Regions from separate parts of the Homo sapiens genome. Here region 2 is linked to region 1. Evidence: fine-mapped expression QTL. A gene starts in region 1. The other region holds a variant in brackets. All regions are shown on one strand. Distances are from middle to middle.

The links. PIP is the estimated chance that this variant, and not a neighbour inherited with it, causes the effect.
Region 2: its variant is the best candidate, but not a certain one, in a credible set for the expression of SUV39H2 in thyroid (GTEx, PIP 0.53).

The regions. Positions count from the first base shown.
Region 1 is chr10:14,876,125-14,880,518 of GRCh38, forward strand. It overlaps SUV39H2 (SUV39H2 histone lysine methyltransferase), which reads left to right and starts at 2,742. Exons shown (of 6, transcript NM_001193424.2): 1 at 2,742-2,795. The coding sequence starts at 2,765. SUV39H2-DT (SUV39H2 divergent transcript) reads right to left here and starts at 2,535. Exons shown (of 1, transcript NR_186426.1): 1 at 199-2,535. RefSeq lists a silencer at 2,476-3,215.
Region 2 is chr10:14,897,167-14,901,560 of GRCh38, forward strand. SUV39H2 (SUV39H2 histone lysine methyltransferase) reads left to right here. Exons shown (of 6, transcript NM_001193424.2): 3 at 1-351; 4 at 2,373-2,519; 5 at 3,967-4,096. It also overlaps a transcript of DCLRE1C not described here. Among named protein-coding and RNA genes, the nearest start is that of SUV39H2, 20 kb to the left of the region's middle. The variant C/T (reference allele first, on the strand shown) is at 2,489.

The DNA of each region.
Region 1 (4,394 bases):
AGCGAAGGAAGGCAGAGAACATGTTGGTCTGAAAATAGTTTTGCGCTCATGAACCCTGTGAAGAGTCTTCGGGTCCCAATTACCATACTTTGAGAATTGCTGCTCTAGATAGTAAACACGGTGATGAATGTTGAACAGACAGGGCCTCATCTATGCGCTGGAATGGATGGGATTCAAGACACGAAACGAAACACTGGATTTACAAAATAGTGCGATGCATTCATTATGAATCAAGACCAAAGAACAAAAACCCGACAAGATAATTGCAAATTTTGATGAGTGCTTTTTAAGGATGCAAAGTAGGGCTAAAGAATGAGGTAACATGCGAGGCCTCTGTCAATAGGTGGTGTTTAAGCTGAGACCCAAGTGATCTGAAGGTAGCCATGTGAGGAGGGGAAGGAGCCTGTCCTCTTAACCGGAAAGTAATTTCCAGCTGCCTTCAGTGATTTGCTTTATCCGCTGCTCCTGTCACTAGGAAGTCAGCTCCATGAGGACTGGGTCTTTTTTCTTTCTCATCCACTGCTATATTCCCAGCACCTATCAGGTGCCTGGCACATAGGAGATGCACAGTAAAAGATTTCTGGGTAAGTGGGGCCGGGGAAAGGCCAGGAAAATGAGTAAAGGGGAGAGTGGCACCAAGTGAGGTGAGACAGGATTCCCATCACTGGAGGCCCTGCCGGCCATCTGGAGGTTTGAGTTTTATTCTGAATGCTACGAAGTTCAGAAGTGTATTTTTCCGGATATGTTCAATTTGAGATGTTTGTGCAACACCTAAGGGCATATGTCCATTACGCACTGTGGATATTCTAGCCTGGAATTCAGGCAGAGGCCAGGGCCGGAGACGATAAGTGAGGCATCTTGTGTGTCAAGATGCTATTTAAATCCATGGGAATTGGGGCAGTCACATAGGGAGAGGGCGGAAAAGAAATGCAGTCCCAGGACTACAGTCTCTTCTCTGAGGAACCCAGGTTGGACTGAGGAAAAGGAGCCAAAAAGGATTCAAGAGTGGCCAGTGAGTAGCGATGGCCGCTCCTTGGTGGGCTCTGAAAACATACAGGAGAGGTAATGAATACAGGGGCCGGTTAGGACGGGAGGCTGTATCCAAGTCTGAAGGCATAATCCTAGATAGACTAAGCCTTAAAGGGCCTGGATGCTCTTCCAGGTGACAGGGTTGGACAGGGCCTTTTATTCCTTATCTCAAGGTAATGAGATATGGAATACAAAATTTACTAAGGACTCAAATCTTAGAAACATGTCTGAGAAATGCAGTTGCATTGAAACACACACGGACTGCAGAACAGTATTTGTATTATGATGCCGTTTGTAGCTAAATAAAGTCTGGGAGCATGAGTGTGTGTGAGGAAGTGGTGTTTCCCATCGTAGAAAATGATTAAATATTTAAAAACGAGAAGTTAAAAAGAAAATCACTCCGAAAAGGCTATTTCGTTATTTTCCTATACATTTTTTTCTTCCATAGTTAAAACTATATTTCAGGGGGATTTGTTTTGGTTTTGCTGAATACTAAAAGCTTCATGAACACCTTTTTAAGACGGCTAGACAGTATTTCATAATGGAATCAAATAATTAACTATTCCTTTAATGGTCTGCGTTCATTTCCAGTATTTCAAATTTATACATACTGCTTTGAAACGTTTATGTAATTTTTTACATGAATTTTTTAAGGAGATATCAAATGGCCTTCTGCCAGTTTTCGTTATTTGCTCTAAGATTTCTGCTTTAGGTTGTTTAGAACAATCATGGATGCAGCGTCAAGAATGGGTGGGGGAGGGGGGTGGAGACCAGGTGGGAGGCCCCTGGAGTCGTCCTGCAGCTTCCTTACTAACGTGTCCTTCTCCTCCCGGCCCCCACCCGCCACCAGGCCGAGCTCAGGAGCTTGGCAACAACATGGGAGGGGAGCTCGGGTCCCCTTACAGACCTACCCAATCCCAATTTACATTAAAGTTGAGCCCAGGAGGTCTAGTCTGCAGTGAGCCGTAATCGCGCCACTGCACTCCAGCCTGGGTGACAGAGTGAGACCTCATCTCTTAAAAAATTCCAAGTCCAGCTCCCCCACCCCCGACGATTCGTAAGCCCCTTTAAGTGAGAAGCACTGATGTGGACCGGTGGTTTCCGCTGTGCCGCACATTAGGATCAGCTGGGAGCTGGATAGCACAGGCCACACCCCACACCAACCAGTCGGAATCCCGGCGACTGCCCCAAGCCAGCGGAACCTCTCCAGCCATGCCCACGTGCAGCCGCTTCCGAAGCCCGGAGCTCTAGAGGGAGCGGTGTCGGGGGGAGACTAACCATGGCCCACGGGGCTGCGGTAGCTGCGGAACCGTACCCGACAGGCAGCGTCCCCGGCTCCCTAGGTCCCCGCTGCCCGTGTCGGATCTCGCAGTGTGCGAGTGCTGCCGAAGTAAGACGTCTCCAAAGCGCAAAGTCCTGGCCGACGTCTTCCCGAGTGAAGGCGCCAAACGGGCCTGGCGAAGGGAAGGGGGCGCCGGACACTGCCGAGGATCCGGGAGCACGCGCGCTCGCCCCGCCCCGCTCCTCGCGCTTGGGGCCGGGCCTAGCTTTGGGGCGCAGGCGCGCTGGCCGCCGCGGCGGGGGGTCGGCCGCCAGTGACGTCAGGACGCCGTGCGGGTTCCGTCCCCCAACAAGCCCCGGCCCCCAAGTCCCGCGCGGGCCGGCCAGGGGCGGGGCGTCGGGCCAGCTGAGCTATCCCGTCAGACCGCGCCAGTTTGAATGAAAGCTCTACAAGATGGCGGCGGTCGGGGCCGAGGCGCGAGGAGGTGAGGCTGGAGCGCGGCCCCCTCGCCTTCCCTGTTCCCAGGCAAGCTCCCAAGGCCCGGGCGGCGGGGCCGTCCCGCGGGCCAGCCAGATGGCGACGTGGCGGTTCCCCGCCCGCCGCGACCCCAACTCCGGGACGCACGCTGCGGACGCCTATCCTCCCCCAGGCCGCTGACCCGCCTCCCTGCCCGGCCGGCTCCCGCCGCGGAGGTGGGCACTGTCCGAGCCTGGGGCACTTCGGAAGTGGAGCGTGGCCTCTCCGCCCGCTCGGCCCGGCCCCCTCCGCGTCTCCCGTGGCGGCCTCGGGCTTCGAGGCCGCTCCCCGGCAGTCCCCGGTTGGAGGTCCGGGGGGCACGGCTGCGACTGGCTCCTTTGTGGTGGTTCGAGCGCGGCGTGCGGCATGCGCCCGGGCCTTTGAAGTGGGAGGCGGGAAGCGACGCCCGCCGGCGTGAACATGACCTTAATATCAGAGGGGGAGAGTAAATCGGGGCGCCTGTGTGCTAAGAAAGGGGATAAGCGAGGAATCCCCCCCAAGGCGGACACGCTAGGAGGTTGAGTGCCTCGTTGGAGAATCGCCCAGAAAGTGGGTATTTGAGGTTGCAGCCTCTGGCTTACGGTAACTCTTTCACCCACCGGGAGCTTGGTGTTATTTCTGTGGACGCTGGGGAATTGGGCACCGGGGAACTGGGCACCGAGCGCGCGTGGGTGTGGGCGTCGGGGGGTGTTGGTGTCGCGCACGCTTTGAGAGCCTGGAACTTTTCCGTGCGTTCCGGAATGTAAAGGTGTTTTCAAGCTCGTCTCCTCTCCGCTGGGATTATGACCTCATTATCCCTGAATTTTTCTCCTTGGAGAATGTCAGGGGTTACTGTGAACCAGCGGAAGGTGTTTGTGGTGGTCATGAACTATTTAATTTTGTCAGTGAAATCTTTTTCTGCATTACTGGAGACTGTCGAGAGATTGTCTTTCTTTTTTTAACCACGTGTTTGCAGTTTTTCATGTTCACTTTTTTTTTTTTTTTAATTTTCAAAGAGCATTTCCTTTGCGGGTTGTGTTTTGAATCCTCAACTAGATAAAAATGTTTAGGAAAAGCACACAAACACACCTTGAGTAGATAAGAGGAACCTCCTTTATACGTGATTCCCTTAATGAGGTCAGCTTAACACAAAACGTTCTCTAGTTTTTGTAGATGGAAGGGACTTAGGGGGTCATTTCTTTCCCATCACTGTCCTACCCCCAAACGACCACTACAAAGCCAATCAGCCTCTTCCCCCACGTTTTCTGGAGGAAAATACCTTTGTCTTTACTGCTTTAGGATGGAATCGTTTGCAGCCAGTGAGATGGTAGAAATTATGCTTAAGGGTTTCTGACAATGAAGTTTCTGTGTGAGGTGGGGAGGATGAGGAAAGGGGCCGGAAAAGTTATTGCCACTAACAAGTGTTCTCCCTTCCCTGAAATTACCTCAAAACGCAAAAGGTGATCGCAACTACCTTGGAGAGCTACCAAGTAAAGCTTGAGTTTACTGATAGATTTTGTTTGGTAACACCAGTTTTCTCCATTTTTTTCCAGTGAATCTGACAGCCAAAAAGATTGAGACCTCACTA
Region 2 (4,394 bases), 21 kb after region 1:
TCAGACTTCTATTACATTAACGAATACAAACCAGCTCCTGGAATCAGCTTAGTCAATGAAGCTACCTTTGGTTGTTCATGCACAGATTGCTTCTTTCAAAAATGTTGTCCTGCTGAAGCTGGAGTTCTTTTGGCTTATAATAAAAACCAACAAATTAAAATCCCACCTGGTACTCCCATCTATGAATGCAACTCAAGGTGTCAGTGTGGTCCTGATTGTCCCAATAGGATTGTACAAAAAGGCACACAGTATTCGCTTTGCATCTTTCGAACTAGCAATGGACGTGGCTGGGGTGTAAAGACCCTTGTGAAGATTAAAAGAATGAGTTTTGTCATGGAATATGTTGGAGAGGTATGTTTCATTTGCCACGTAGTAAATGATGGACATGCAAGGTTTATACTTTTGGAAAATTACCTTTTTATCTCTTTAAGAGATACTTGGTACATTTTGATATTTTCATTTGCAGATATGTAGAAATTTATTCAGATTTAGGAGAAGAGTTCACTGGCATATTTAGAAATAAAAAACTTTTATATGAATAAAAAATATACGTTAAAACAAATTGATATAGTCATCTTTCAACAAATACACATTCCTACTAGTCAAACCTAGGATTTGTAAAATTTAAAATATGACAACTGTTTTTACCCAAAAGTCCTAAGAAGAAACTCAGATGTAACACATGCTGCTTTGAAACTTGAAAGTTTTAATTTACTTCATCTATTTGACCAAATATGATTAAATGTAGTTGGCAGAACTCTATTTTGGATCAACATGAAAGATACTATATTTATGAGTTTTGTAAAATATACACAAGCATTTATTGCATCCATAATCTGTAACTTACTTTTGAACTGTGAAGACCATTCTCAAAACTACCATACAAATACTAGCAAATTTATTTGTATACAAATCATATATATGTATATATATATATAAATGTAAAAAGTATTTGCCGTGTGTCACATACTATTCTAAGCACTTGATGTATTAATTCACTAATCCTCTCCAAAACTCAGTGAGGTAGTACTGTTTCTTTTTTTTTTTTTTTTTTTTTTTTTTTTGAGAAGTAGTACTGTTATGTCCATTATTGTAGAGAAATTGAGTACCTTGCCCAAGGTCACACAGGTCACATAGTAATAAGAACCGAGATTCAAAGCTCTAAAATCAGTAGTCTTCACCATGGCACCACACTGCTTCAAACTGAAGGGTAGGTTGAGCTGTGACTAGAAAGACACAAGCATGGCTACATATCTGGAGTTGTCAACTCTGGATTTTTTAGTTGGAATTGGGTCACCTATAATTATCTGTATTCATCTATAATTCTGAAACTAAATTAGATGGCTGTTTTGATTCTTACACTTTTAGACAGTGGTAGATTATTATAAATTATTCAGTATACAAGATCTTGTATAATCAAATTACTCTTTTTGTTAACCAAAATTTTTTAAGTTGCATTCTTAATGAGTGCAGCAGCCAAATTTGGTTGGTAACATAAAGTACTTTAGACACTTTTGGTTTCTTAAGCCGAGCGTGTCATAAAACTTGTGTTCTTAAGAGCAGAACTGTAGATGACGATCTTAGACTTACAGAATTGCATGAAAATAACATATTCTACAAAAACAAAACCTTCCATTCCAAAGTTAACATAGCTTCTCCCCTGTATTTTTAACAATTTTCCATTTGTAACTGCATATATATAAGTTATAGGAAAAATGTGCCTGGATCATATTTAGAGCATATACTTGCAGATTTAGTCCTTAACATTCAGTTGTGTCCTGTAGAGAGCTATAGTTGTATAGCTTTTTGAACATCCTAATTATAATGAAAGTAATGCAGTGTTCCAATGTACTGCTCAAATCCTGTTTAAAAAGTCATAAATCAACCAGTTACAGTTAATCCCAGCACTTGGGGAGGTCAAGGCTGGAGGCTCACTTGAGCCCAGGAGTTCCAGACCAGTGTGGGCAACATAGTGAGACCCCACATCTCTATAAAAACTAAATCATTAGCTGGGCATGGCGGTATGCACCTGTGATCCAGCTAGTCAGGAGGCTGAGGCAGGAAGATCGCTTGATCCCAGGAGTTAAAGGATACAGGGAGTCATGATGGCACCACCGCATTCTAGCCTGAGTGACAGAGTGAGACCCTGTTTAAAAAAAAAAGGTCATCAGTCTTTTGCATTATCATTTTTCTTCCCCTCATTTTCCCACCTCTTTGCATCTGAGTCTTAGTTTGTGTGAATGTTTGCTTTGATGACACCTGAATTTCTTACTTTTTAAATATTTGTAGGTATTCGCATATTAGTAGATAGGTAGATGAATGCTTCTTTGGTTCAGTAGCTACGTAATATACTTACAGTTTTTTCTGTTTAGGTAATCACAAGTGAAGAAGCTGAAAGACGAGGACAGTTCTATGACAACAAGGGAATCACGTATCTCTTTGATCTGGACTATGAGTCTGATGAATTCACAGTGGATGCGGCTCGATA[C/T]GGCAATGTGTCTCATTTTGTGAATCACAGCGTAAGAAGACATACGTAAATTTTAGACACGACTAACAATTCAACCTAGTACTAGTTTCCATAGCTAAAGAATAATTCCCTTTAAACTACATATCCTTTTAACATTTCCAAAATATGTATTTTATAAGGAGGGCAGCTTCTGTTAAGTTATGGTATTATTGCTGTATTAGGAAAATTAAACATTGAGGTGCCTACCAAATATTAATAGGGTGTATTTTACAAGAGTCTTTACATATGTTACTTCATTTAAACTTTCTAGTAACTTTGTACGGTAGGTATTACTTTCATATTACAATGAGCAGAGCAATTAAGAGGTAAAATGTCCAAGAATTACACAGAACTGTATCTTAATGGAAGTTAACACGACTACATTTTAGGATGTACAACTGAAGGTAAATGTATTTTCTTAAAATGTAAACATGTTAACTTTTTATAAAATTTAAAGATTTGTAGAGTATTTATGTAGGGCTATTTTTCTAAATTATAAATTAGTATTCTTCCTTACCTTTTAATGTCTGAAAGCTCTTAGAATACAGCTGGCACTTAACTGCAGAATTCTGGACTCTAAATAATTTCCAAAAATTAGGGAAGTTAATAATTTTGGGTTACCTACTAAGTAGCAAGTGGACAGTAAAACATTAGGCTTGTTAGGGTGACATTATCTGCATTTTGTGGATAATAAGGACAGTGTGTGCCACAAAGTTATATAGCTGAACATATAAAGGAAGTAGACCATGTTAAACTTCTGATGGATTTCATAGTAAGAAATTGGTGTATGATTAGCAGAGAGCTTCTGGGCCCTTGTTTGTTGATTAAACATTGAAGAATTTTTTTCTTAATGATAAATTCGAGATACTCTCAAAATAGAGATATTCTATCCAGGGCCATCAAACAGTTTTGATTCCTTAGTATGACTCACTACATCTTTTTTCTTGCATATTCCGTAAGTTTACTGTAGTATTCTCAAAACATTGAAGAGTTTGGACCAAAAATTCAAGCAGTGAAACTCCATGCAGTGTAAAATTTGAGTTCTGTAGTGCAGATTTGATTTTTTAAACACAGTTGTTCTAGTTATTTTAAAGTGTATGCCTTACTGAAATAGTTACCAGTGAAATAATAATGTTATCTGGGATTTGTATTGAAATTCTCCAGGAAAAAAAAAAGTTGGGACTAGAGGAATAAGATTGGCAAGCATGTTACTAATTGTTGAAGCTGTATAGTGGATACATAGGGATTTCTTATTTTCTCTATTTTATACTTGTCTGAAGTTTTTATAAGGGAAAAAAATCTTTTTAAATGTGCATGCCTCAAAGACCTCTAAGCAATAAGCAACTTAATTTCCAGTGGAACTTAAACTAAATCTCTAGGAAAGTAAACATTTTATATGGCATGTAGAAGGGCTTGTTTACACCGTTTGTACTTAAATGGGTTCTAATGTTCCTTTTTAGTGTGACCCAAATCTTCAGGTGTTCAATGTTTTCATTGATAACCTCGATACTCGTCTTCCCCGAATAGCATTGTTTTCCACAAGAACCATAAATGCTGGAGAAGAGCTGACTTTTGATTATCAAATGAAAGGTATGCTTTTCAAGTACAGTTTCATTGGTGTCAGTTTCAATATGAAGAATCAAATCAGACTAGGAACAGACCTTAGATATTTGAACCAAACCTAATACTAAAGATGAAAAGTTGAGGCACTAAGTTTGTCATCCTAAGGTACAAAGCTAATCCAACAGCTAATACTAGAACCCAGGTCTGCCTGAGCTTCAGCTGAGGAATGGTTCTACATCGTAAATTTTCAGAACTTCCATTTTGGAAACTGATTTATTTATTATAGCATCTTAATACTGTACTACTTGTCTTTTTTTTTTTTTTT